Regions from separate parts of the Homo sapiens genome. Here region 1 is linked to region 2. Evidence: fine-mapped expression QTL. A gene starts in region 2. The other region holds a variant in brackets. All regions are shown on one strand. Distances are between the middles of the regions.

What was found. PIP is the estimated chance that this variant, and not a neighbour inherited with it, causes the effect.
Region 1: its variant is fine-mapped to the expression of MYOM2 in whole blood (TOPMed, PIP 0.97).

Annotation. Positions count from the first base shown.
Region 1 is chr8:2,136,283-2,147,099 of GRCh38, forward strand. MYOM2 (myomesin 2) reads left to right here. Exons shown (of 37, transcript NM_003970.4): 33 at 4,441-4,604; 34 at 4,859-4,895; 35 at 6,093-6,115; 36 at 7,119-7,174; 37 at 8,382-9,174. The coding sequence ends at 8,699. Among named protein-coding and RNA genes, the nearest start is that of MIR7160, 65 kb to the left of the region's middle. RefSeq lists enhancers at 20-527, 1,515-2,015. The variant C/T (reference allele first, on the strand shown) is at 4,638.
Region 2 is chr8:2,038,590-2,049,406 of GRCh38, forward strand. It overlaps MYOM2 (myomesin 2), which reads left to right and starts at 6,457. Exons shown (of 37, transcript NM_003970.4): 1 at 6,457-6,579.

The DNA.
Region 1 (10,817 bases), 98 kb after region 2:
GCTCAGGGCATCTTGCATGCATGCATGTGTTTACCCTGATCCCAGGGTGGCAGCGGAGGCCGCAGCTGTGACGGAGGTGGGGCCAGAAGCATGTGGGGTGCCAGAAGTGCACCAAGTGGGCCAGTGTGTGATTTGGTGTCCAGTGGACACCATTCCTTCATTACAGTGGTTTTTACCCTTCGTCACTGGCTGAGATTTGGGTTCAAGTGTTCTTCCCCCAGATTGTGTGGCTGTTGTAAAGAATCTCTCGCTGAAGTAGAGGGTCACTTTTTAAAAGTGAAACTTGAATGATAAGTCACTCCAAAGGCCTAGGGCCGTCAGCATGAGGCCAGTGAAGCAATTGTGTGCAGTGGGGCCCTTATCTCCACTGCTGCCCAGCCGGTGTGTCCAATTACACCAAAGTCAGGAGGCCGGTGGGACACATTTACAGCTATTTTATGAATGATCGCGTGAAGGTGTACCTTTTTCCCTTGTCACCTATATCAAAATAAAATTATGTTTCTTTTTCTGTAAGCAAGTTGCTAATTGTGTGAGTAGAATGGATCACCACTGGAATGGAACGTAGTCCAGCAGAACATAAACGCCGCAAAGGCTAAAACGCTGCCACTTCATGAAGCATTTGCAGCGCAACTTTCGTGGCCCAGTGAATTTCACCTGTTGGACAAAGCTGTGGCTGATACGGTGGAAACTCCACTAGCTTTTCTTCATGGCTCTAAGTCTAAACAGTGAGATTTTGGGGCTGTTTGCAATTTTACCCCACGGAAGAATTTCTAGTCTCTCTCTCTTTCTCACACACACACATATACACACACAGAGCAGAGGTTTGAACATCTTCGTCTATACATCTAGGATGCAATAGTTTTGGCACATAATTTAGCTCTTTGAAGAAGACACATTTGAGTTAATGGTGATCAAGAAAACATTGTCTTCTCCCTAACACCCACGTGATGTGTGGGAGGATGAGCTCACACAGGGTGATGAGCTCACACAGGGTGGCAGCGATTGTTGCGTCCTCTTGGTGAGACTGACCAGCGACAGCACGAACAGAGCATTTCGTGCAGGATGCAAGACACCAGGCATGACAAAAATCGTCCCCTTCTTCGCAAGCGGGGAGCTCATCACAAATCCCCAAGCAGTATCCAGGCTTTGCAGGGCAGGGAAGCAGGGTGGGGCCAGGCAGGACTGAGGGCCTTACTGATGTGTGGAGGTTCAGGCTGGAATCCTGTCCCACGGGTCTGTGTGTGTGCAGGAAGCACACATAGCCAAGTTGGCTGTGCCTGGTTGTGTGTGTGTGTGTGTGCATTTGTTTGAACTTTGACCCTCATCAGTTCCAACAAGAGAGGGTGACAAGATGACTAAGGCCTATCAGTGTTGGCAAAACAAGTTTTTCTGACTCTCAACAGAAGAGTTCCACATGCTTGTGGAACCCTGTTTCCTTGGATGGGGTACATTTAGTCAATAAACGATTACAGTGGGCCCAGTTCCCCACTGATCTGCAATTTCTGATTTGCTGATTGGTCTGTAAAGTGTCCAGTTGTAAGTGCATCCAGGGGGATAAAGAAGTCTTTCTTAATCAAGCTGTGATGTCCCTACAGTGTGTCAGTGTCTCTTTGCCTTCAGGTCTCTGCACAGACGGGCTTCTTGCTGCTCCTCACACGCCACGGTTTGGGATTGAGTGGCTAATCCACTGCCTGGTATATGTTCTGTGCAAGGTTTTTCTTTTCTGCAGAGCTGAGAATCACCATGTAAAGTCTAATTTTCCTTTTATACACAGGGATGAGTAGGTCTGAGTGCTGCAATGGCCCATCAATCCCTTTAGTAATAGCGACCTGCTGTGAGCTCACAGGACGGCTGGTGTGGCCACTGATGCTCACCTGCCCTCAGACACACCACGGATGGAGACTCTGGCAAGTCCGTGTTGCCTTTAATGTAAGCGCCAGCCTGCAGCTTGCAAACATGGCACTCTCGGCCCGGCCGGCTCTGGCTGCTGAGTGCTGGGGCCTGGGGTCATGGCCTCATCGCTTCTGCTTCCCTCTCCTGCTCCCCAGGCAGCCCATGCTGACTGTGGACTGAGAGCAGCTGGGCGGAGCCTGGGGCTCTGCTGCGGGGTCAGCCTTCGTGAGGCTCCCAGGTCAGCAACGTATAGAATTCCAGATGCGGGACTGAGAGATTCCTGAAGGATTGCCTGGTCCGATTCTCCCGCCTCTTTCCGGGGAGGGGCAGATTATGGGAAAAGGGAGCTAATTAACATATTGTGAAGGGCTAAAGGGGTCACTTTTACATTATGTGCATTCTAACACAGTTTTTAAAAGTTTAGATAGAACCAAAGTGCTCACACTGCCCTGCCTTCTAAGGCGGCACGAACTCGCTCCCACATCGGCAACAGGTGAGGCCAACCTGATTATTGTAGACAAATGTGTGTCAGTTATGTTCCAAAGTCGCTTCAGTAGATGTTGAGCATGTCTTCTTGGATTCTAAAACAACCGCACATGGGCAGTGTTAGATCCTCCCTTCTCTGTCCGGGATCCCAGAGGCTAAGTCTCAGGGTGAAGCCAATCCCACAAAACCATCCCTGGGAACAGCCATTTCGGCCTCTCTGGCTTAGTGTGCGCCAGGATCCCACTGTGCCTTCACAGAACTCCCACTTTCTATCCGGACAGACTCAGTTCCGACACACACTGCCAGCACCACCACCAGAGACCCGACACACACTGCCAGCACCACCACCAGAGACCCGACACACACTGCCAGCACCACCACCAGAGACCCGACACACACTGCCAGCACCACCACCAGAGACCCGACACACACTGCCAGCACCACCACCAGAGACCGGGACGCAGAGCCAAGCATTTATTTTTACATATATACTTTTTGAGACAGTGTCTCGCTCTGTTGGCCAGGCCGGAGTGCGGTGGTGTGATCACAGCTCACTGCAGCCTTGACCTCCTCGGGCTCAGGCAGTCCTCCTGCTTCAGCCTCCTGAGTAGCTGAGACTACAGGTGCTTGCCACCACACCCGGCTAATTTTTTTATTTTTGTTGAGACAGGGTCTTGCTTTGTTTTCCAGGCTGGTCTCCAACTCCTGGGCTCATGTGTTCCTCTTGCCTTCGCTTCCCAAAGTGCTGGGGTTACAGGTGTGAGCCACCACACCCGGCCTGAGCTGTGCATTTATTATGGGCTTAACATATATTTGTTGAAGGAAAGAATAACAGAGAAAAAGGCTATGATGGTGAGGAGGGCTGGAGAATTCCCTTTCCCGATGGAACATAGGCATTCTTGGTTGCCGGCAAGGGTAAGGAAAGATGCCACAAGCACCACAGCTGGCTCTCTGTGCAACTGACCCAGCCTGCTTCCCCAAGCTGCGGCTGTTCTGGAGCTGGTGCCCGAGAGAAACAGGTCCACATTCCAGCTCTTGGGTGGCCCTGGAGTCCGTCCTGTTTTCATGCACCTGTGACTATGACTTCCACAGATCTCTCAGGCTCCCTCTAAACTGAAGTAATGTTAGGAAATAACTTATACACTTTTGTCTGCAGTAAACAGTTTGGCCTTATATGTTGCAGATGTGGAACCTTAGAAGGCGGGAATGTATGAGCACCTTGTTTTTATCTAAACTTTAAAATATTGTAGCATAATACACATAATGTAAAAGTGAGCATTTTAACCACCTTTAAGGGTACTGTTCAGTGGTGTTAAGTACATTCACATCATCGTGCAGGCACCACCACCACCCAGGACCTTTTCATCCTCCCACCCGAAACTCTGTTCCCATTAAACCCTCAGTCCCCATTCCCCTCCCCCAGCCCCTGGTACCCACAGTTCTACTTCCTGTCTCTGTGAATCTGACTACCCTAAGCCCTTCATAGGAGTACATATTTGTCTCTTTGTGACAGGCTTATTTTACTCAGCAAAATGTCCTCAGGGTTCATGCACATTGCAGGAGGTGTTGGGATTTCCCTCATGTATTTATGGACCACATTCTACTGATCCATTCATCACCAATGGACGCTTGGGCTGCCTCCCCACCGGGGCGGTCGTGAACGATACTACGAAGGATGTAGGTGTGACAATATCTCTCCAAGACCCCGTGTCCAATTCTTCGGATCTACACAAGTAATTGCTGGATCATGTAGTAGTTCTAGCTTTAATTTTTTGAGGAACTACCATACTATATAGAGTAATGTTAAGTCCATTATGTCGTGACAAGTATATATTACATAATAATATACCTTTAAAAATTAAGTATCATTTAATTTTAGAAAGTTTTCAGATCTGAGTTACTGATGTGGTCAATACATTCGTAACAGCCAGAATAATCTATTGTGACATTGGCATCAGCAGCTTAGAGAAGGCTGTCACAGCAACGGGACATTGCCCTGTAGACATTGTGCGTGTGACATGGAGACCCTAACTCAGATACGTTCCTGTTGCTCTTTTCAAGAGATGCTAAGATCTCATCCAGTGAGCATATGAGAATCGGGGGGAGTGAAGAGATGGCTTGGCTGCAGATATGTGAGCCGACTGAGAAGGATAAAGGAAAATACACTTTTGAGATTTTCGATGGCAAAGACAACCATCAACGCTCCCTTGACCTGTCCGGACAAGGTAAGAGAATTCTTCTTTAGCATTTAATAATTT[C/T]CTATTTAGAAATCCATTTAGATGCTGAAGGGAGGGAATACAATATGAATACAAGAGACAATATGAATTTACAATTTTCATTTAGAGAAAATGAAAAAATAAATTTATTCTTTTTTTATATATCAGTTTTCATGAACCAGATTCACTGGTATAATATTTGAGTGAATAAATAAAATCTGAACACTGAAATGGTTAGTAACGTATGAACTATTTCCTCACAGCTTTTGATGAAGCATTTGCAGAATTCCAGCAATTCAAGTAAGATTTGTGTATTTAGTTACTATGATATCCTGTGGGCAGTTGAGTCCCAGTCGTTTTGGCTGCATGTGGGAATCTGTATGGAAGCCTGGGTGACCTAAAGAAAGAGCCATTCCTGGGACAGAAGTGGGAATTTAAGCAATGCAGTATATGGAGGGGTGGGCATTCTCCTAAACCAGAAATGCATTTATAAACGGACTGTCCAGAGTCATCGGAACCCCGGATGAATTTCGGAAATCATTATTGTGAGAGTTGAAGAAAGAGAAAAGAAACACGCAAAGCAGATTAACAGTCAAAGACAGGTTTATTTTGGAGAATAAACCTGAGTGGGGCTTTTGGCCGATTTCGGTCAGGAGCGCTTTCTTTTACAGACTAAGGGTATTTAAGGGTTCTGGCTCAGGCTAGGAAGGTTTCTGTGTGGAGGAGAGTTTTATTGTGAGGTTGGAATACCTCTGGTTGGAGGGGAGCTTATCTCAGGGTTGGAATGTTTTTGATTGGAGGGCAGGTTATGCCAGGGTTGGTATGTTTCTGGTCGGAGGTGTCATTTGTGGTTTATGGCCATGCTGACATTAGCCCTTAAGCTGATGTTTTTGGGCTGGACTTAGGCGGTTTCTAATCAAGGAAGACTTAAAATGGCGATGCTAGTCCAAGATGGCGGTGCTGCTGCTCTGCCAGTCATCATCAGGGCAGCACATCACACACAGCAACTTTTTAAGGACAATTCGGGGTTTTCAAATGCACCATCGAGTCTTCGCACATCCGAAGCTGACCGCAGTCCTTGGCCCATGCTAGCTTATTTAATGAACATTTGTTGACTGGGTGCAGGGATGAGCAAGATAGATCAGAAACTGACAAATTCCGAAAATATCTCAAGTCTCCAGTGCAATCTAGTGAATTTGTGAAAAAAAAAAAAATCTCTTCAACCTGTGAGCTGGAATGCTAAACTTTTCTGTGGGTTTTAGCATCTGGATAATAGGGCATTTTCCACCTCAAAATGGGCAGTGGGAACCATCAGGAAAAATCAGTGATATCCATCCTGGGGTCCTGTGACCCGAACATGTTCTTCTAAGAGAATGCAAACGTATCTCCTTCTTCTTTTGCTTCATCGCTAGTGAGCCTCTCAGCTGTGCATTTTGTTGGAAGCATTTTCTCATACTCTCTTTTCATTCTCTCCTTTCTGTCCCCTTTAACTTTTAGAGCTGCTGCTTTTGCAGAGAAGAGTAAGTACCTGTTGGATTGTAACCAGGATGGTGAATTATTTGGGGTGGGGCAAAAGTGTCCATATTTTGGAGGACCAACTTTGTGTATTAAATAATAACCAGCAATCCCCCACCCTGATGTAACAACGCCACCAACACCACACCCTGTCCTGGAGCCCCATGTCCTGCACCACTGATCCTTGCACTGCTTTCGGCCTTAGCCCCGTCACCCCTTGGACACCCTCCCTCCCTCCTCCCTTGCAGAACCTGCAGCCCAGACACCCAGGGCCACTTCACTTTCTTTCCCTCCCTTCCTCCCTCCCCTCCCCTTCCCTCCCTCCCTCCCTCCCTCCCTTCCTCCCTTCCTCCCCTCCCTCCCTTTATTCTTTTTTTTTTTTTGACAGAGTCTTGCTCTGTCACCCAGGCTGGAGTGCAATGGCATGATCTCGGCCCATTGCAACCTCTGCCTCCTGGGTTCAAGCGATTCTCCTGCCTCAACTTCCCGAGTAGCTGGGATTACAGGCACCCGCCATCATGCCCGGCTAATTTTTGTATTTTTAGTAGAGACAGGGTTTCATCATGTTGGCCAGGCTGGTCTCTAACTCCTGACCTCAGATGATCTGCCCGCCTTGGCCTCCCAAAGTGTTGGGATTACAGGCGTGAGCCACTGCGCCTGGCCAGGACCCCGTCACTTTCTGCCCAACTCAGGGACACACGCGGCTCTCCAGGCCTTCCGTCCTCGGTGAATTCTTCACCCTTCAAGCCCAGTTCCCATCTCACATTTCCTCTGGAGTGTTTCTCCCCCAACCCCTTCACAGAGTCTGTTATCTCCTCATCTACCTTCCCTTGGCTTTGGTTTATCCCTCAACTGTAAACATATAAACCTTTTTCTTTGATGCTCGCTCTCTCCTGAGCATAAACTCCTCACCACATTCACCTTGGTACCCACTGCTGCTTACATGGCTCCTGCTCCGTGGGAACGTCCCGCAGATGTTTTCCTAACCAAGGTGCTTTCCCGTTGCAGATCGTGGCAGGTTGATCGGCGGCTTGCCTGACGTGGTGACCATCATGGAAGGGAAGGTGAGGATTCTAAACTCGGCCGGGGTGGGGGTGTCAGCACGGTGCGATGGACGCAACCCCTTCTCTTGGGGCGGAGCAGAGGGAACCCAGTGAGGGGCTTCTGTGTCCTCACTCAGCCTGCAGGGAACCCAGAGTCCCCCCCACTTTTCTGCCCCTCCTAGACGGCTTGGAATAGCCCCTGTATTCTCAAAGGAAGGAATCACATAACATTCCGAATCCACAAACCTGTGTTCAGAGGAACACGTTGTGCCACTCAGGCACCTCAAGGCAAGTGCTGTGGCTTTGGGTGTTTCTATGCCCCTGTGGCCATTCACCCAGAGGAGCAACTGCAGGATGAGGCAGCCACACTCGCCCTGACCTACCTGCGTGTGTGAAGGTGCAAGCCCCCTGCTTCCAGTGTGAAACAGCACAGCTTTTACAACACGAAGGAAAAAAAAATCTCTGCTCCTATTCTCAAGGTCATTGTGGAACACATCGTGGAAGCCACTTATTGGAGTTTAATTTGTTGCCTGTCGGGAGAATTATTGATATCTAATTGATAGCTGTCTGGTTGCTTCAGTGGGTCTAACTCAATGTCACAGGGACAGAGATACTTGAGAAAATTTTATTAGCCCAAAAGACAAAAATTTATAGACGTCTTCTTTAGTAGCTAATGGAAGCCTAGAGAGCTCTTGAGATCTCATCTTAAGGATGTAATTGAGAAATTAGCAATCGTTTTACTTTATCCTAGGCTGAAAGCATGTTTTAACTAAGCTTCAAGAATGCATTTTTTTGCCTCCAATTTACCAGTTATAAAACGATATATTCAATGGGTTTGCCAGAGGAACTGGTAAGAGGGATCCATAACTCTAAATAGAAAGGAAATTTGGGAGCAGACTGGATATATCTACTATAAAACATAGAGCTTAATTAAATTACTTTCAAATTCTTTAATTGACTTAGGCTATGGATAAAAGCTAAGAATAAATAGGACACATGCTCACTGATTTTTTTACGAGCTCGCCTGTGAAGTGGTGAACCTGTTCCCTGCTGTCCTCTGCCTGCTCTGTCCAGAGCGGCGCTCATGTACATAAAGGCTTGTTTCTAAACAAACGATTGAAGGACCAATAAATGTAACTGAGTGTGACCTGGAGCCCACCGTCCGAGGGGGTGACATGACTTTCCTTTTTCTAACTCTTCCTTCTCCACCAACCTCTTCCGTCCAAAGACCTTGAATCTGACCTGCACGGTGTTTGGAAACCCTGACCCCGAAGTGATTTGGTTCAAGAACGACCAGGACATCCAGCTCAGCGAGCACTTCTCGGTGAAGGTGGAGCAGGCCAAGTACGTCAGCATGACCATCAAAGGCGTGACCTCCGAGGACTCGGGCAAGTACAGCATCAACATCAAGAATAAGTATGGCGGGGAGAAGATCGACGTGACAGTGAGCGTGTACAAACACGGGGAGAAGATCCCGGACATGGCCCCGCCCCAGCAAGCCAAGCCCAAGCTCATCCCCGCGTCTGCCTCAGCGGCAGGCCAGTGAAGGCGTTTTCCTAGCCTGGAGATGGGAAAATATGCTTGGCAGAGACAGGAATGCTGTGTGCTTGTTCCAAATGAGCAGCTGGCATCCGAGTGGTGTCCTGTGTGGGCTGATAGTTGATCACACATTGTGCTTTTGATTTTTGCATTTGGTGATGAATATTTTATACCCGTCTAAGGGAGAAAGCTAATGTTTTCCACAAGACTGAACAACGTGTATTTACACGAGGGTAGACGGCAGATGCCTGACAGAGAGTGGGTTGGCAGACAACACACTAGAATTTTCACGGGTGTGGGCACATGGGTGTGGCACCTGGACGTGTGCAGCATGTGGCGGTCTGTGTGAAGCCACCGTGCTTCTCTTTGGGGGGCCGCGAGATCTAGCATCTCTGAAATCCTGGCTGTCGAGGCTTTGAAGCATGTGTTACCTGGTTAAGCTTGTTTTCTCTTGCTTTAGGCAAATAAAAGTTTAAAAATCACCTTGTTGTGGTTTTCCTGTACCAAATCACACCTACCTGCCCCTGCTCACCCCCTGGCTTGTTTAATTATGGGTTATCATGCACTTTCACGGCTGGTGGGGTGCAGATAGTGCACTCACCCTCCAGAGAGCAGGGCATGGTGAATCACACCCCCAAAGCCCCTCCGACCCACGGGGCTGGGCTGCTGGCCCCCAGCGGCACCCAAGACGGCACCAGTCCTAAGAAGTGTGCGTTTTGTGCAAGGCTTAGAAAGGCCACCTAGTGATTATACCACGGATCTAAAAGTCTCTGTAGAGGAAAATGAAATGCAAAGATGGCTCTGTTCTTTTTTAGTGTGCTAATGAATTAGGAAGGGATTTCAAAAGAAAGAAGGCACTCATTCAGAATGATCACTGCAGTAGCCATGGAGGAAAAATAAAAACTTGGCTGCCTACACAAGGCCTCTTGGTGAAGTTAAAAAACGTGTTTAGGAGGAACATACCCTCTCTTTGAACTTTTTCCTCCTTTGTTTGGAAAGAGGCTGAAATTCTTCTGGCATAAAAATCCCATTTCAATATTTTAGTTTTATTGTTGCTTTATAACAGAAAAAGCTTTGATAATTAAGAATGTTTTACCTTTCTGTGTCATTAAGGGCAATCCAAATTTTACGAGAATTTGTTATATTTTTCTAAGGTAATAATACAAATCCTGAGAATTAAATATGTCCCCAGTAACATAAAGCTGGCTGAGCTGGTTTCCATGGCAGTAAAGTGAGTATCAGCAAGAATTTTATTTTTGTTATTTCTCCCTTTTCTGTCGTGCAGATGAACTTGAGCGGAGTTTGTTCTTATTGCGTGGTGGCAGCCGCGTTTTCCAAAGCGTGCTTGGCAAGGGTAGGCGCAGACAGTCTCAGTTTGACCTTGATTTAGTTAAACAGATTTTGTTTATTTTCCAGTTTAAACAGTCATTTTTGTTTAGCAATCGTGGTTCATGGGAAATAATTCAAATGGTTGTGAATTTCTTGAAGCCATATATACTATTTTTAATAGACCTCCTTTTTGAGCAGTTTTAGGTTCACAGCAAAGTTAAAAGGAAGGTAGAGATCTCCACTCCAACCCCTACCCCCACCACAGCTTCCCCCGCTACCAACACCTCCCACCAGAGGGATGTGCTTGTTACAACCGCTGCACCCACACTGACACGTCACCATCCTCGCAGGCTGGAGTTTACCCTGGGCTCGCTTCTGGCGCTTGTTACAACTGCTGCACCCACACTGAAGCGTCAGCATTGCCGGGGGCTGGAGTTTACCCTGGGCACACTCCTGGTGCTGTTGGCTCTGTGGGTTTGGTCGGGTGATCAGGACTCAGGTCCACCATTGTAGCATCATGCACAGTCTTTTCTCTGCCCTAAAAATCTTCCCTTCAACCACTGAGCATTTTACTGCCTCCATAGTTTTGAGTTATAATATTTTTTAAAAGACTTTTTTTTTAAAAGAATGAAATAGTCTTAGACATGCAGTAAAGTGTCTTTACAACGGCGCAGAGAGCCCAGTGGACTCCACAGTCTTCCTGTTGTTCACGTCTCGCGTTGCTGTGGGGCGAGACGATGGCCTCACCTCCGGGTGGCCTTCAGACCTCGCTGGGTTCCCCCAGTGCCCTCTCTCT
Region 2 (10,817 bases):
CATGGGACATAGTTATAACTGTTTTAATGTCTTTGTTTACCAAATTTATGGGCATGTTACTATTAATTTTCTCATTATATGTTGCATTTTTCTGGTATGTTTAATTGAATGTCAGATATTGTGAAGTTTAACTTCTTGGTTGCTGGATATTTTTGTATTCCAGAAATATTTTTGAGCTTTACTCTGTAATACAGTGAAGGGTTTTTTTTTTTTTCCAACAGTTTGATTATTTCAAAGCTTGCTTTTAAATGTTTTAGTTGACATGAGATCAGCCTTGAACACAGGGCTGGTTTTGATCCACTACTGAGTCCATGCCCTTTTGAGTATTTTTCAGATATTCCATGAATTTTGAGGTTTTCCTTTCCAGACACTGTGTGCGCTGGGATTATTCCACGCGAGGGAATGTGATCCACAGCATGGGGGTCATATTGGCCTTAGGGAGAAAGGAGAGACAGGAAGTTTTATGAAAACTGTCAAGTTCTTAACTTCATTCGTTGTATTTTTTTTCAGTTCTAGAATTTCTATTTGTGTTTTAATGTTTTCAGAAACACATTCTAGGAGAACATCTGGATGACTTTCTGTATGGCAATGACTTTTTAGATATAACACGAAAGGCACAATTGATGAAATAAGTAATTGATAAGCCAGACATCAATAAAATTAAATATATCTGCTCTACAAAAGACAAGATCAGGAGAATGGGAAGGCAAGCCACAGACTGGAAGAAAATACTTGCAAATATACATCTAATAAAGTACGGCTGCCCGCAGAACTCTTAAATCTCAACAATGAGAAAAGAAACAACCCAATGAAAAAAATGGGCAAAAGGCCTGGACAGACAACTCACCAAAGAATACACACCATTGGCAAATGGAGAGTCTCCCTCGTTTAACATGGCCCCACCTTTCTTGGGGGTCCTAAACCCCAACTCAAGAGCACCAGAAACCCACCAGCAGCTCTTCTTTGCTTTCTCACTACTTTTTGCCTTCTGCTCATGGAGTGCTTTGAGGTGAAACCTGGTGCTGAGATGTGGGCTCTGATCTTTGAGCCTCCCCTCTCTTCAGGATCTTGGCCTTTCAAATCCTGGATGCACTGTCAGGCCCAGACTCCAATTCTTATCTCTCCAGCTTCACAGTATTGCAGGAAGCTCTGCTGTTTCCCCCTGCTTCTCAACAGCGGCACTCTTTCCTCTTCCTTACCTTCAACCCAGCCACAAATCGGCAAGAGCCCAGAGATAGAAAGTGATGTGCAGAGAGAGTGCCCACTTCAGGAAGCACAATTCTCACTAGGACTGGGCCTCGAACCACTGGCTGCTCTCACAGCTCTCTTGTGTATCATCTGTCTGTCTGTGTATCCTGTCTATCTATCTATCACCTATTGATCTATTTCCATCACTGATCTATGTCTATCTTTCATCTCTATCATCACTCTATCACTTTATCATATATTATCTATTTACCTATCATCTATCTTTCTATCACTCTATCATCTATCTATTATCTATCATGTAACTCATATACCATCAATCTCTTTATCAATCAATCTATCTAACCTATCATCATCATCATCTGTCTGTCTATTCATCTGCCCATCAGCTTATATGTCCATTCACCTATCTGTTTTTCTCTCTTTCTTTCATTACTCTTTTGCCATCTCTCACACTCTGTATTTTATCTGGATTGTTACTTGTTCTGGGTAAGAATGTTGTCCTACTAGAAGCAACTTTATCACACATAAAAGTGAAAGTCTACTTCAGACATCTCATGTCTTATATATTACCCACTACATAGAGTTATAGTATTAAGACTTGCTGGTACTCTGAGACATAGTAAATGCTTGATAAATATTAATTTAAATGTATTTAAAAGTATATATATTTTAAAGTGTCTATATCTATATCTATCTATATCAATATCTATCTATCTTTCTATCTATCTATCTATCTATCTACCATATATATTTTTGAGCTGAGGTAAAGAATTACTAAATATAGCCTAGCTTTGTCAATTCTGTATATTTCTGTTTAGTTCTGAGCCACTATTAACTATTATACTTAACAATAGTAAGTTCTTCATGTCTCTTGAATCCATTCATTGGGCAGTTAGTTCAGAACTCCTTTATTAAGCACAGAGAATGTGCTAAGTTTGGAGAGAAGAAGCCCACACTTTGGTGGCTGCTGTGGCAAGAGTGTCTGGGGAAGAGTAAGATGGTGTAGTTGGGGAAATCTTTACTCAGAAATTGATGTGTAGTTATAATAATATTGGCCTCAAAAGAGATAGCAGGTAAACTTACTAAGGACTATAAAATAAAGTCAAAATTTTGCAGAAAAGAAAAAAAAAGCAAAGGAAACCTAAGCATTTATTTTCCTACTTTCCTGGAAAATGATTCAGAAATGCTGGAAACATTGGGAATTTGTGCGATTCATGTCGCTAAAGGGTTCCTCATTACTGAGCTGCTGCTTTCTGTGGACACGTGTTTAACTGACTTAATGAAATGTTAGAAGGAAGGCGCTTCCTCTGAATGTCAGCGACCTATTTCATCAATTAGTGGATTAAGCATGGCCTCAAAGAGACATCTATTGAACTTCTTGGAAATTAAGAAGGTGACAATTGTATTTCTCTAAACAAGGTTACTCTCACAATCAACATTTTCAGAAGGTTCACATTTAAACATTACAGTTAATTCATCTAAGTGGATGTGATTTTCTTGAGGTTTAAATTCTAAATACAGAACTGCACAACCATAAATAGGAACAAAGACATTCTAAAGGCAGAAAAAAGGAACAAGGTTGGGTATGGTGGCTCACGCTTGTAATCCCAGCACTTTGGGAGACCGAGATGGGTGGGTCACTTGAGGACAGGAGTTCGAGACCAGCCTGTTCACCAATATGGTGAAACCTTGTCTCTACTAAAAATACCAAAAATATATATATATATATATATATATATATATATATATATATATATATATATATATATCCGGGCCTGGTGGCACACACTTGTAATACCAGCTACTTGGGAGGCTGAGGTGGGAGGCTCACTTGAACCCAAGAGTCGGAGGTTACCACTGCACTCCAGCCTGGGCGACAGAGCCAGACGCCATCTCAATCAATCAGTCATCAGTCAATAAAAATAAAGAAAAAAACTCTTTTCTTTAAAGTGGGGCTGTTTTCTGAGATTCAGGTTTTCAGGATTTGGGAATGAGAGGCAGTGCTGATGGGGGCTGATGCCCTCAAGGGAGTTTTCTGCCTCCAGATTTTCCAGTCTCCCTTCTGCGGCCTGTGCACACGTGCTCTGTGGGGACCAGACGCCTTTGTTGTTGGCCTCATCACCCCCTGGTTTGGGAGAGCACGGAGGGTGACCCCCTGCCCCTCCCTGTGCTGTGGCTGCAACTGCGAAGCCTCTTTCTGGTGAGCTGTCATCCTTTGAATCATAAAACTGAATATTTGGCCTGTTGGATGGATAATTTCTAAAATACATGGGATGGATAATTTCTAAAATACATGGATAATTTCTAAAATAATTTCTAAAAAACAGAAAATTTGTTTTCTGAGACGGAATGCATGGAAGTGAACAAAATATCTTAAGAATAATTTTATTTCTTTCAAATATCCAAACTGATTTTCCTGAATCGAATGTCAGTTTTGGCTCTGTGCAATATAACAGGGGTCCTGAACCCCAGCCTCGGGGTCCGTGGCCGGTGAGGAGCTGGGCCGCATGGCGCGGTGAATGGCGGCCACTGAGTATTCTCGCCGGAGCTCCAGCTCCTCTCAGAGCCGCGGCCTTAGATTCTCACAGGAATACAAACCCTACTGTGACCTGCACACGCGAGGGATCTAGGCTGGACGCTCCTTATGAGAATCTTATGCCTGATGATCCGAGGTGGAGCAGTTTCATCCCAAAACTATCCCCCTCTCCACCGTTCTTGGAAAAATTGTCTTCCACGAAACCGGTCCTTGTTGCCAAAACAGTTGGGGATTGTTGCTGTATAGAACATAACTTCACCCATGAATGGTCTGGCCTGGGGTTCCACAGGATTGAAGGCACGTGGTTTTAGAATGTCACTCTTTGCATTTCGATCTTCTTTTCTATGTTGTGGGAAATCCTCAGTGAGGCCAACTGTTTTCCATTCACAGGCTGCCAATTTGAGCTGTGGAAATGAGATTGCTGGACTCTTCCTTTGTCTTAGTCAGGATTCTCTTGATGGCCGATGATAGAAAGTCAGCCCAAGGAACTCCGGCAAGAAGGAGCCTGTCTGCCCCAGAGCTGGTGTGTCTGGTGGAGAATGCGGGGCCCATGCCTGGTCCCACCGCCTCCCTCCGTCTTTTGTCCCTTCTTGGCTCCAGGCTTCCTGCAGGTGCACCTCACCCAGGGAGTTTTGGAAGCTACATCCCGGGTGGGCAGGGGCAGGCATGGCTCAGGGAGATGGGGGTCTACGAGGAGGGTGGGGAGGGGTCTCCTGTCCCCAGCAGAAGGCGAAGCTCTGTCCCCATCAGGAGCCTATCTGTGTCCCGGGTCACACTCTGCTCTCTGGGTGGTGTGGCTGAAAGATCCAGGCTTTCTTAGACGCAGCACTGGATTTCTATATCACAGAAGGAGGGCACAGCCACCGTGAAATGTCAGAAAAGGAGGAGGAGTGTGCTGGCCCTTCCTTCTCTCAGGAGAGGCCCCTCCCCGGGATGAGATTGTCCCCTCCTGAGATGCTAGGACTGGGACCCAGGCGACTGAGATGCCAGGACTGGGACTCAGAGGACTGAGATGCCACCTGAGGGGACGAGGCACCATCACTGCCCCTCCAGTGTCGGCCACACTCAGAGGCAGGGGGGCAGAAGGGCTGAAGGGAAGTCCCCCAGGTCCCTGAGAAATGGATTCGCTAGAGAAGGAGATGCTGATAAACCGGAAGTAAACATTGCTTGCTCTGGTCTTGCTGTTTGCAACCCCCCCAAAATATGTGGGTTAAAACCCTAACCCCCAAAACGATGGTGTGAGGAGGTGGGGCCTTAGGGAAGTGACAAGGTCATGGAGGTGGAACCTCCCGAGTGGGATCAGTATCCTCATACAGAGGCCCCAAGAGCGGCCTGGCCCCTTGACTTGGTGAGGACTCAGGGACCGCGCCGTCCCAGAACCAGAAGGCTCTCCCCAGGCAGTGTCTGCTGGTACCTGGATCTTGGACTTCCAGTCCCCAGAACTGTGGGAAAGAAGCTCCTGTGTTTTATAAGCTACACGGTCTATGGTGTTTTGCTAAAGCAGCCTGAATAGACTAAGAAATCACTCAACAAACACTAATTAAATTAAATGCTAGGCCATCAGAATACGAAGGGGAAGAAGACAGAAACACTCGCCTCCTGATCCAGCATCCAGAACGCTCTGGGGCCCAGCAAGAGGCTGTGCTCGCGTCTTTCTCGTATCTGATCTTCGCCTCCATCCACCTGCTCGCTGGTCCTTGGCTGTGCCTCTGATACCCCAGTGTGAGAACGTGGAGTTTCTTAAGGCAATTCTCTTATCATATTTTCTCTACTTGTCACAACAAACTTACAGGAAAGTTGTTATTCCATGCGTTTTAGAGCTGGGGAGCATAGCCCCCGTGGGCTGAGCAGCTGGCCGAAGTCCTCAGCCCCTGTGGTGAGGTGCAGCTGGAGTGTGATTCTCCGGGTCCTCAGATGGGGGCATCCCCTTGAGGCCCCGCCTCTTGGCCAGGCTGCAGCCCAGGACCGTGCCAGGTGTGTGTTATCTATATTTGGACACACGCTGTGCGAAACGACGGGCACCCTGCAATTATCCGTGTGGTGTAGACGCAGTGTACGTCTGTGGTAATGGCTATAAATAAGCCCCGACTTGCCGACTAGGCACCGCTCCTCTTTTGGGTAGGCAGTTCTTGCTAAAATAGCCCTAAGATACAATCGAGTGAAGACCTGAGTCGTTCTTGAAATAAAAAAAAAAAAACGAACAAACACACGAACATGCACACACACGCTCACAAACCCAGGGGCTTGTGCACCTCCCTCCCTCCACAGCCGACCTCAACTCGGGTGTCCAGGCCTGCGAATGGCACAAATGCTCACTGAAATCCATGTCATTATTAAAGACTCATTCAGGAGTTGCAATTTGTGAGCCAGGGAACCTGTAGCTCGAAAGGATTGAAGATATGTCTGAGAATTCACACGTAAGGATTAGAACTCATGGAGGAGAGTTGCGGGGAGGGAGCGTGGGAAGTCAGTGCCCTGCCCTCTCTTTCTGGGTCGGGGGCTGAAGTGTCACACCCGGTTTCCTGGGAAAAGTGCAGTTTGGGACTCAGAAAGGACACGTTCCAGTTTTGAATCGTGATTTCCCCCGCCCTCAGTTTGAACAAGAAGCTTTTCCTCCTGAGGTCAGGCTGGTGATTTACGATGTGGGTATTGATGTGGGGAGAGGCAGGCCCAGGCGTCTATATATAGTAGCTCCTCAGACCTTAAACGGGAGGGAGGCACAGGCGCTTGCTTTGCAGGAGTCAGCTCTGCCTTCCTCGGCTGGAGTGTGGGTGGCTTGGTGAGCCGGTGGTCAGGAATTCTCTCTCCTCCTTGCAATTTTCCTTTCTGTCTGGGTAAGTGTCTTTCTCTTCTTGCCTTTTCTAATTTGTGGCTTTAAGGGGAGGACCGGTAACTTCTGCACTCACATTTTCTAAGTACCTCTACTTCAGGGTCAAGAAGAGAGAGCCAGTGCACCCCGTCGCAGGCACCCTTTACTGTGGAAAACAGAGCAATTAGTTCTGGGATCTGTATTTCTTTGACGAGGTTTTATGCTCAACTAACATTTTATTTCCCACAGCCGTGGTCTTTGCTAAGTGCCGTTTAGCACCCTGCGGCGTGTGCTTTGGGTTTTAGCCCTGGTCTCATCGTGGCCCCAGGGGGCCCCCCAGTCAGTGGACTGATGTCTGCAAGTTTCATGAGATTCTCAGAAACGAAAGCCTCCCCCGAGGAGAGGGCTGACTTATAAAGGTGTGAAATAATAAAACTGGATATTTTCTTAAGGGAAAAAAGAGTCGAGGGTCATTCAGCTTAGACCTAGCCTATATTATCCACGGTATGGGAAAGAGAACAATCCTTGTCAGGACTTGCAAGTTTTTGCCCAAAAATGACAGCGTTCTTACGGCTGTTTTCTTCTTTGTGCTGTTGGGTGTGTTGTGACCCTTCAGACTTCTTCAGCTCCACTCCGCTGATAGAGGCTGTGCCTTCTCAGGGCGTGCTCTTGAAATGCAACCTGCTGGAGAAAGACAGTGGGGCTGGGTGGTTGCACGTGGAAGGCACCGGAGGCAAACGGAAGGAAGGGGTTTGCCATCACTGGGAACACCTGGCCTTTTCTAATTCTCCATTTCACATTCCTTTCTTACTAAGTAGAAGTAAAACAGGACTCAAAGAAAGCGTGGAACAAAGATAATTTAAGGCGTTATTTAATAAACCAAGTCCCAAGCTAAAACTTGTCTTGGGAGCCAAGGGCTTAGCCACTTGTGGCACAGGCCAACGCTGCGTGTCTGGGAGTCCCTTTCCCCTCTAGAAAGCTTTAATTTGGTGTATTTATTGACTTTGACATTTTTAACTGTACAAACAATTTCCTTCATTAAGTGGAAGTCAATGTTTTGTACTTCAAACATTTTTGCAAATTAAAACCCATCCTGGTGACATGAGGAATGGGCTCCACACGTTGTTTGCAGGAAGGAATTAGGATGGGGATATCAGACACGTGGTCCCCTGCACTGGAGGAGAGGCTCGCGTTTCATCCTGGTGTCATGATTCCTAAACGTGTCAGGAGCATTCCGGGAGTGGCCGGGGAGCTGGGCTGTGGTGGAAAGTGGGCTGGACGCTGTCAGGAGAGTCAGCTGGCGCCTGGGTTCGGCCGTGGCCCTACCGGTGACCCGGGCAAGTCATATTTCCCTGGGGACGGTCTGTGCTAACAGTACAGCGTGGCGCCAGGATTATCTACACACAGGCTGTCCAAGCTGGGGGACTGTTAGCTGCCACCTCACTCAGCCCCCTGTTTTACAGCAGAGCAGGTGGAGGCCCCTGAGCTGAAGGTCAGCAGGTCCCCACTGGAGTCTCAGCCTCCCAATGCGCCTGAGCCCCAGGGACTCACATCAAAAACTACCCTGCGAGGAAAAGCTGCTTTCTTTCTCTCTCTCTTTCTTTTTTCTTTTTTTTTTTTTTGGTTGGTGTGTGTAGGGGGTATTTAACACATGTCTGAGATAGTTCCTTAAAAAGGAAAACAGCTTTCTATGTAGACAGTAGAGGGACATTGGGGAGCTGATCGGCCCAGGTCCTGTCATTTTCTTTATAGTGTCATAAATAGTACAGGTTGATCATTCCAAATCTGAAGATCAGAAATCCAGAATGCTCTAAATTCTGAAACTTTGTGAGCGCTGGTATGACTCTCAAAGGAAATGCTTACATGAGCATCTCAAGTATCCAATTTCTGGATTTGAGTTGCTCAACCAGTAAGTATAAATGCAAGTATTCCACAGTCTGAAAAACAAATCGGGAATTGGAAACTCTTCTGGTCCAAGCATTTTGGATAAGGGATGCTCCACCTGTAGGGTGCATTTGGCAAGTCCTCTCCAGGGTTCCCTCCACTCAGAAGGGCCCTGTGCTGCCAGGGCTGCAGGCACCCAGCACGTGCTGAGTCAGTGGGGATTTGCTTGCAAAGACGTCATCACACCCGGCCAGGAGGTGGTGGCCCAGGCTGGGTGAGGGACACTGGGGAAGTTCTAACATAGGAAGTCCCCCAAGGAGTGAAGAGATTGCGGAGGGGACACACATTCAGGGTGGGTGAGGCTGGACGTGCAGTCCTGCTGGTTTTCTGGGTTGGGCATGTGATTGATAAAAGTGGAGTTGAGGGCACATTGGCACTGGGAGTCAAATGCGCAGAAGACTTGAGCTTGCTACTCTCCCGAGCCAGGAGCTCTAAGGTGTTTTCATTGTTGAAATCCAAGGGTTCTGATTTAGGCTTGGCTGGCACGTTGCAAGTGACCCCATACTTGTGGAATCAACTGAGGCTGATGGATTCTGCAAAGCCTCTGACACCTCCTGATTTTGGTGGTCCTGAGCATGAAGTGAGCAGGGAATACATGTGGGGATAAACGTGGCAAAGTGCCCTGTTACCCCCATCCAAAGACTTCCCGGGGAGACTTCCACAGTAAGGTACCATTGGAGTGAGGATTGCAGGAAGTGTGCACACGTGATCCCAGCTCTGCCTTGCTAAGCACTACAAAGTGTAGCCCCTCACACATGAAGTGTTTGAAGACTTCCAGGCCCACAGGACCGGATGTCACGTCAGTGATACATAGGTTGCATTGGACAGGACGTTACAGACTGGTTGAAGGATAGCTAGTCTGTGAGCTCTCAAGACCTGAGCCGTTTCACATTCTTCCAGGTCTTAGGTCTAAGGAGGAGGATTTCCATCCAGGGCGATTCTCCTCTTATTTCAATGTAGCTCATTCTCTCCTTTGACCTAATAGGTCACATTTTGACTCTTCCCTTTACCAAGAAATACAAACACATCTGAGGTTTAACTCAACATAAGTGTAAGTAGATACTGTGATGACACATGAGCCCCTGCTGCAATAGCAGGTACTGGGGATTGCTCATGCGTCTGCTGGAGTGGAATTGCCTGGTATTCGTCAGGCTGATCCCAGAAGAACCTTGGATAGGAAACCGGATGGAAGCTGAAACGTCTTCCCCAACCTTGGTCCAACTTCATTTCAGTGAGCTCTTCCCAGCACCCTGCTGGTGAACTCCAGAGAGAGTAAATGGGTTTCTGAGCAGGAAGCGTTTCTTGAAGATCCACCTTGATTAACTCATTGGAAAATCCCAGTGAGCTGCATCTGGGGAGATTTCAAATAGTGAAGCAATACATAGATTTTCTCAGATACCTTTTCCTGTCTGCAGAATTCTTGAACCATGATAACAGCAGCAGCATAACAGAGACAGCAACCGATTTCGGTACCAGGGCCAGGGCCAGGCATGATGCAGATTCAATATGGAACGCCAGAGCTAGAGGAGCTAGAAGCTACCCCAGGCCTCATCAGAATGCTGGAGTCAGAATTCGATCCCAGGTCTACCAGACATCAAAACCTGGGCGCTTGACCTCTGCACTATGATACTGCCTTCAATATCAGGGCGGGTGGAGGAGATATGCTTTTATTTATTTATTTATTTATTTTATTTTTTATTTTTATTTTATTTTTTTTTTTGAGATGGAGTCTCGCTCTGTCACCCAGGCTGGAATGCAGTGGCGCGATCTCGGCTCACTGCAAGCTCCGCCTCCCAGGTTCACGCCATTCTCCTGCCTCAGCCTCCCGAGTAGCTGGGACTACAGGGGACCCCCACCATTCTGGCTAATTTTTTGTATTTTTTTTAGTAGAGACGGGGTTTCACCATCTTAGCCAGGGTAGTCTCAATCTCCTGACCTCGTGATCCACCCGCCTTGGCCTCCCAAAGTGCTGGGTTTACAGGTGTGAGCTACTGCGCCCGGCTGCTTTTATTGTGTTCTATGAGGTGCAACGTTCCGTTATATCCCTGGAGTAGAATGCATGCTGGTGCACTCTAAAACACGGCTGGGCCCTCCCAGGGTGGGGTGGTTGGTCGACTAGTTGGGTTTTAAGAGGCAATATTGAGAGAGTTAGTGTGGCAGTGTGAAAGGCCCAGAATAAGGATGGCCTTGGGGCAGGGGTAGCCTCTTCTACATGCTTTTGGGGAAGAATTTCTCCTTTCTGGCCCTCGTGTCCTGTTTTCTTCCCTGTAGAATAGGAGTTTGGGTAATCGCTAGTGATCTTTCCAAGTTCTACAATAC